2 linked regions of the Homo sapiens genome follow. The protein of the gene in region 1 purifies or fractionates together with the protein of each later gene. This does not show direct contact. Each region holds a gene or a part of one and is shown on either strand. Other genes may lie near its edges. The genes, in order: ZNF75A and TPP2.

Region 1 (3,819 bases):
TACATACTTTTCTTTTTCTTGTCCTCAGTGCTTTTAGGAAGAAGATCCTTTTATTGCTTTTGTACAAGACCAGACAGGATCTCATTTGTTAAACGTGGTACCAATTGGGTGTCTTAACACAGGAGCAGAACTTCCTAGAGCAGAATGATGATGGTAGATCTGAAAGTGGCTGCGTACTTGGACCCTCAGATCAGGGCTTTGTGGGAGACCAAGGGGCCTGCAAGAGAGAGCTCCGGTCAGAGTAAAAAATCTCCTCAAATGGACTGTCTCGATCCTAAGAGCTCTTGCTGGCACTTCCGGAATTTCACCTATGATGAAGCAGGTGGACCCCGTGAGGCTGTCAGCAAACTTCAAGAATTATGTCATCTATGGCTGAAGCCAGAGATCCACTCAAAAGAGCAGATACTGGAACTGCTGGTGCTGGAGCAGTTCCTGACTATTCTGCCCAGGGAGACACAGACCCAGATGCAGAAGCACCATCCACAGAGCATTGAGGAGGCTGTGGCTCTGGTAGAACACTTGCAGAGGGAATCTGGTCAAACATGGAATGGGGTGAGAAGAAAGATTCCTGACATGTACAGTGAAATAGGATGCAGGTGGATATAGTAGAGATGGTGGCAGTTAGTTGAGAAATTAGATGGATTAGGTAGGTCATTGTTTGGTTTTTTTTTTAAGGACAGTTAAGGTGGGACTTGAAACTACAGGCCCACAGAAAAGTTCACAGGTTTCAGAGATTGTGGTAGATACTTCCCTGGCCTTAGAGAAAGAGAGTTGCTTTTGCCCTCTTTGGAGCCAGGGTGAATTGAGGGTGTTGGGCCTAGTCTGGCTTGGCCAAGGAGACAGGACTTAAGTACTTAGAAACAGAATAAAAGGTAATAAAGAGTCAGGGAGGCTGGATGCAGTGGCTCACACCTGTAATCTCAGCACTTTAGGAGGCTGAGGCGGGTAGATCACCTGAGGTCAGGAGTTCAAGACCAGCCTGGACAGCATGGTGGAACCCTCTCTCTACAAAAATAAACAAATTAGCTGGGCATGATGACCGGTGCCTGTAATCCCGGCTATCCTCGAGGCTGAGGAGGGAGAATCATTTGAACCTGGGAGGTTGCAGTGAGCCGAGATCGCACCATTGCACTCCAGCCTGGGCAACACAGCAAGACTCCATCTCACAAAAAAAAAAAAAACAAAAAAAACAAAAAAAAAACGGGCCGGGTGCAGTGACTCACACCTGTAATTCCAGCACTTTGAGAGGCCAAGGCAGACAGATCCCCTGAGCCCAGCCTGGGCAACATGGTGAAACCCCGTCTCTACAAAAAACATGAAAATTAGCCAGGCATGGTGGCACACACCTGTGGTCCCAGTTACTTGGGAGGCTGAGTCAGGAGAATCACCTGAGCCCAGGAGGTGGAGGTTGCAGTGAGCTGAGATGGCACCATTGCACTCCCTTGGGTGACAGAGTGAGAACCTGTCAAAAAAAAAAAAAAAAGGCAGATCCACAAGGAGAACACAGGAAAACAAGGACACTTAAAGAAAAGGAGAAATTGGCCAGGTTCGGTGGCTCATGCCTATATTTCGAACACTTTAGGGGGTCGCGGTGGGAGGACTGCTTGAGACCAGCCTGGGGAACATAGTGTGACCTTGTTGCTATGAAAAAAAAAAAGAAAATAAGCCAGGCTGATGGCACATGCCTCTAGTCCCAGCTTCACAAGAGGTTGAGGTGAGAGAATTGCTTGACCCAGAAGTTTGAGGCTACAGTGAGTTATTATTGCAGCATTGTACTCTGGCCTGGGCAACAGAGTGAGACCTTGTCTCTTAAAAAAAAAAATGTTTTAGGCCAGGCGTGGTGGCTCACATCTGTGATCTCAGCACTTTGGGAGGCTGAGGCGGGCGGATCACAAGGTCAGGAGTTCAAAACCAGCCTGACCAACATGCTGAAACCCTGTCTCTACTAAAAATACATAAACTAGCTGAGCATGGTGGCGTGTGCCCGTAATCCCAGCTACTCAGAAGGCTGAGGCAGGAGAATGGCTTGAACTCGGGAGGCAGAGGCTGCAGTGAGCTGAGATTGCACCACTGCACTCCAGCCAGGGCAACTGAGCGAGACTCCATGTGAAAAAAAAAATGTTTTTAAAAATTAGGAAAAATCCAGCCTGGGCAACATGGTGAAGCTCAGTCTCTACAAAAAATACAAAAATCAGCTGGGCATGGTGGCGTGTGCCTGTAGTCCCAGCCACTCGGGAGGCTGAGGTGGGAGGATCACCTGAGCCTGGGGAGGATGAGACTGCAGTGAGCCATGATTGTACCACTGTACCCCAGCCTGGGTGACAGAGTGAGACCCCCGTCTCAAAACAAAACAAACAAACAAAAAAAACAACTAGGGGAAGACTGCACAAGAAAAGAAAACATAGAAAAAAGGGAAACAAAGATTTGGAAAAAAGAAAAATCCCAACAGAATAGCCAAGGACAGGAAATGCACTGATGGGTAATGTCCTCCCTATAGTAGATGAAAGTCTCTACTGCCTTCCCTTAATGCTTGTTCCTTGGCTCTGCTGACAAGTTGGGAGCCAGGGTATGAACTTGGTGGGTGGCGACACATCTGCTGACCTCGGGTCTGCTGGGAAGAATACAGGGCAGGACCTATGTTTGGTGTCAGAATCATCTGGAGGTAGGTTGGAGCCACTCCCCTTTTTTCTCCATTCTATCCCCATTCTCTGAAAACCTTCGCTGGCTATAGGGATAATCAGGCTGACAGGAAAACTTTTAAATTCATTTATTTGAATTTTAGAGAAAACTAGAAGACAGAAAACCACAACTGTGGGATTGAAGTCAACAGAAAAGGCCTGACAAGACAGTATTAGAATGAGTGGCCTGCCTGGCTGGGCACAATGGCTCACACCTATAATCCCAGCACTTTGGGAGGCTGAGGTGGGCAGATTACCTGAGTTTGGGAGTTTGAGACCAGCTTGACCAACATGAAGAAACCCCGTCTCTACTAAAAATGCAAAAATTAGCCAGGCGTGGTGGTGCATACCTGTAATCCCAGCTACTTGGAAGGCTGAGGCAGGAGAATCACTTGAACCCAGGAGGCAGAGGTAGCAGTGAGCCGAGATTATGCCTTTGCACCCCAGCCTGGGCAACAAGAGCAAAACTCATCTCAAAAAAAAAAAAAAAAATGAGTGGGCTGCCCAACCCTGCCAGTGGCCTGACCTAGACCGTATACAGAGGAGTAGAAGCTGCTGTGTTAAAGGGCTGGCAGGCACCACAGTTTGTTTCCTTTCACCCTAGTTTTCTCATATTTGTGTATAGTCATTTGTGGAGCATTGGTGGCCCAGTATCTCTTTAAGCCTTTTTTTGTCATTTTTTTTAGTGTCTTATACTACCCACAATGTGGGCTGTACACCTGTCGCTCTGCCTCCACCCCCACAAACCAAAAGTAAGTTCTGTGGTAACAAGGATGGGAATTATTTCTAGGTTGCAGTCCATGAGCTGGGAAAGGAGGCAGTGCTCTTGGGAGAAACAGCAGAGGCCTCAAGTTTCGGGCTGAAGCCAACAGAGTCCCAACCAGTGGGCGTATCCCAAGATGAAGAATTTTGGAATACATACGAGGGTCTGCAAGAACAGCTCAGCAGGAATACTCATAAAGAGACTGAGCCTGTGTATGAGAGGGGTAAGGAGCTTCATGATAATTTTCTTCTCCTGGGAGCTGTGATAATAGTTTATTCACCCAAAATGTCATGGGCATTTTTTGAATACCCTGCTCTGTGGATTTGTAAAACCAGCCTTGATAGCAACTATGATGTCCTTCCAGGCAGCAGTAGAAAT
Region 2 (3,819 bases), on another chromosome or scaffold:
GAAACCAGGTATCTTTATAACACAGTGAGTATGTGAACACAGGTCAAGGTGCCCTGCTTTTGTAAGGGGAGCTGCTGAGGCACAAACAGCAGGCTACAGTACTTAAGTTTCTACCATTTAATAAACAGTTTCTAATGGTATTGCAGTTTCTAAAAATGACTGCATTAGGATTCACAAAATAATATCAGAGAGAATGTTAACTTGCTATTTTACAGCAAGAAATAAAAAGGTTAATGTCCACTGATCCTAACTAGTCATGACTGGGATCGGCTATCCACCATCCTTGACTTTGCTGGTCAGGTGGGACAGTGAAGCTAGAAGCTGATACTGGGGCTGCCTTGCAGAGATCTGCTGGCAAGGATAAAATTCTCACCTCTAGCATGCAGGTGGATTAAAAAAAAAAAAGGCCCTTTTTTAAGAGTGTAAGAGATCCCCCCAATCTATATTCAATATCTGTAGTTCCTAAAACATTGAATGATACCGCAGTGTTTGGACCCAGTTCTTCAAAGTTATGCAGGGAGCCAGATCTTCGTATTTCAAGGAGGACTGAACATCAAAGCGGTTGATTCCTTCCGATGCATGCTACAAAGGATTTCTCAAATTACTTTCTCAAACTTTACTAAAAATAAGCAATATTTTGTACCTAAAATAAATGTGTCCAATATAAAGTTTATAAGTACCCACACACAAAGCCTACTGCTATCTTCAGAACCACAGGTAATTTCCCCTCATTAAAGTTTAAATCTAACCAATGAAGTTACTCTCCAGTAACACAAGTAACTGACATTAAAAATCATGAAAATGTTGTGGAACTTACAATGTTTAACTGAGGAGCAGTACACACTATCCCATGGAAAGAAATGGTATAATCAATGTTGACATCACTGAGACTTGCCCACCAACGAGCAATGCAAAATTCAATTGCTTTTCCACCCTGCAAATAAAAGTAAATAAAATATATCTCTTTTCTTATTTTTCTCAAATTACAGAATATAAATACTAGCTGTTTCAGAGCAATTCTGTTTTCAAACTTTTCCTGTTTGTAGCAAGAAAACTCAAAAATTTTAACAGCTATGCTAAGTAAGAGTTAGACAAATCATTTGCAGAGATATGGTGTATTTAAATATACATAGTTATTTACTCATAACCCTATGCTTCTTGTCATAAAAGATCCTAGGCAGCTTCTGAAAGCACATATAATAAAGCAAATGTGATTTTATTATTTCGAAGTGAAATAAAAAATTAGGACCAAAAGAAAAATAATCAAGTATAACGACACAATAAAGATACTTCAACTTTGTAAGGCATACTCAATAGGCACAATTGAGTTTGGGCTCACAGCTACCTGGCAACCAAAACAAAATGACATTATGGTCATTTACATCTTTCTCCCTATTAAAAAATAAAGATAAGGAAAAGGAAAAAAAAACACCTGCTCTTAGCACTGAGTTTTAAAGTAAGTTTTCTAGTAATCAGTGATTTAAAAGTTTAAAAAGATGAAGCAACACTGATCCATGGAAGAACACAAATGAAAGTAACCAGAAACCAAGAGATACTGGGAAAATCCCAGAACCAACTGAAAACACAAAGGAGCGCATTGAAGGAAGAACATCAGTACTTTCACCTTCTATGGAAGAAAGACTAGTCATCATTTCCAACACCACAGATAAGAATGCAGTCTGCCATCATCTGAGATAACTTAGACATGAAGCAGTAGCAGTTTTCCTATAATGCAAATTAGCCTCATAGCTTAACAACACAGCATTAGTAAAATAAGTTAAGTGACAAGCAAACAGGTCTTAAAGAAATTAATCTATAGTACAACAAAGAATAATCTAAATCAGGGTCCTAACTACAAGGCACGAGAATCTACCAGACTAGTATGTTTCTTTGACTATGCTATTCAAGAATTACAGCCATAATTACCTCCAACTTGATTTCAAGTACCCTGATTAGATTTTCTATTTTTCTACTTCATTTTTTTGGCATTAAAAAAATATATAATCCCAACATGCTAAATACAAACTATAAAATCAAATGCAAATACTTAGTCTTAGCCCATACCAAAAAGGCAAATAAATTGTGTTAGGATTATAAACTATAATTAAACTTACTAGGACAGGAAAAGCTTCAGTCAGTGTTCCTTTCTCTGGAAGAGAACAAAACTTATAGAATTCATGGCTTCGATATGCTCTTTGCTTCACAAGCTGGACTGCATGTAGAACAAACTTTGCTGACACCTCAGAAGAACACGAACACACTGTCACTTCTAAAATAAGAAAGAAAGAAGCAAAGCTTTAAACTTATAAGACCTAAAATTGACATAAAGTGGCTTTAATAATGCCCACTTAGGGATAATTCCCATGTAGGGACATAATAGGGATCAAAAATAAAATGTACACTCAAATCTGCATATTTCCATAAAAACAAAGAATCAACAAAATATTAATAAAGGTAGAAGACTAGAAGATTTTCTATGGGAACGAAAGAAACTGGTATTAAAATGAACCACCACCATGAGGCTGCAAACACCTGGAAACAGCAAGCTGTCCATAGATGCATACACAATTACATTAATCGGGTACCTTTTAAAATCCCTCCTTGTTTTAGCTGAAAACCAGTCAATTCCAGATAAAGTAAGGAAGGTTATATTTTTGGAAACCTCTATTTGTTATCATGCCTCAATTCCTCATTGATAACTTTTCCTAATCTCTCTTCTTGGTCTACTTGTGTACTGTGTGCGTCTACAAAGCCTGGCACGACTACTTATGCTTAACTTTACTCTGAGCCAGCGCTGGAGGTAAGCCAAGATCACCGCAATGCCAGATTGGCAGCTTTTCTAAAGAACACCCAAGCTAATTCAAGGGAACTGAAGCAAGGCGCAATGCCGTGGCTCATAAAACCAGGTGTGCAGAGAGCTCTCAGAACCTAGTCAGTTGCTAAGAATACAAAATCTAGTGTTATGACAATATTTCTAATTATTTGAAATAAAACTAAGACTGTTAAATTCTCTTAACTACTTGCATTCTAGATCATTTGATAATTTTTATTTAAAAAAACAAATTATTTTCAATACCAACCTAAACCAATCATAAATCAGTGCCATTTATCACTAAACAAGTACCCAATTCAGTATTAATTAACCATAGATTTGTATTCTTTAATTTACCAGTGCACATTTTACCAGAGCCTGGAGCTCTACAAGTCCCAGGGGCCCTATGAGAATGGGACCCCAGGAATGCTGAACACAGCAACTCTGACTCCACCCTCTAGAAGTACTGTCAAGTGTGAGCGTAATCCCAACGAAGACAAGCTATGTACCAAGTACTATAAAATCCCTAATCCTTACAACAGACTAACGACTATATTTACAGTTGAAACAGAAGTCCAGAAAATTTAGAAACCTGCCCCCAGGTAACCATTAGCGTATGGCAGAGTGTGGATCCAAACCCAGACTTCTCAATTTCCAAAGCCCGTGGCCTTGCCGCTACTCTGTGCTGCCTCCCTCTAATCCAGTTCTCTTAACTGCAATATCTTGGACTAGATGCTCTCAAGGCCTCTGGAAGCAGGGTCCTTGTCTAAGTAGCTCACCACCTTAGCCCACTGAAAAGGGCCTGGCACAGATGGTACAGAAAAATATGCTTAATGAATGAGTGTAGTACAACCCGATTATCCTCAGAAGCCTCTCACTGCTGCAATAGCTCCATTATAAACCAGTGTGCAAATTAACAGGCTATATTGGGTGCTGTTCAATTCACTGCTTTAGCTCTCAGCTTTTGCTATTATTTTGCCTTTACCTAATTACAAAAAACAAGAAAA

The links.
Region 2: the proteins of ZNF75A (region 1) and TPP2 purify together in Homo sapiens (affinity purification with mass spectrometry; one large-scale study listed by BioGRID and IntAct). This does not show direct contact.

The regions. Positions count from the first base shown.
Region 1 is NC_000016.10:3,308,285-3,312,103, forward strand, and holds part of ZNF75A (zinc finger protein 75A), read left to right. Parts: intron 1-28; 5' UTR 29-144; coding exon 145-552; exon of another isoform or gene 553-2,662; intron 2,663-3,364; exon of another isoform or gene 3,365-3,468; coding exon 3,469-3,664; intron 3,665-3,819. UniProt on the Homo sapiens protein: May be involved in transcriptional regulation.
Region 2 is NC_000013.11:102,641,672-102,645,490, reverse strand, and holds part of TPP2 (tripeptidyl-peptidase 2), read right to left. Parts: intron 2,270-3,819; coding exon 2,115-2,269; intron 935-2,114; coding exon 818-934; intron 583-817; coding exon 482-582; intron 1-481. UniProt on the Homo sapiens protein: Cytosolic tripeptidyl-peptidase that releases N-terminal tripeptides from polypeptides and is a component of the proteolytic cascade acting downstream of the 26S proteasome in the ubiquitin-proteasome pathway.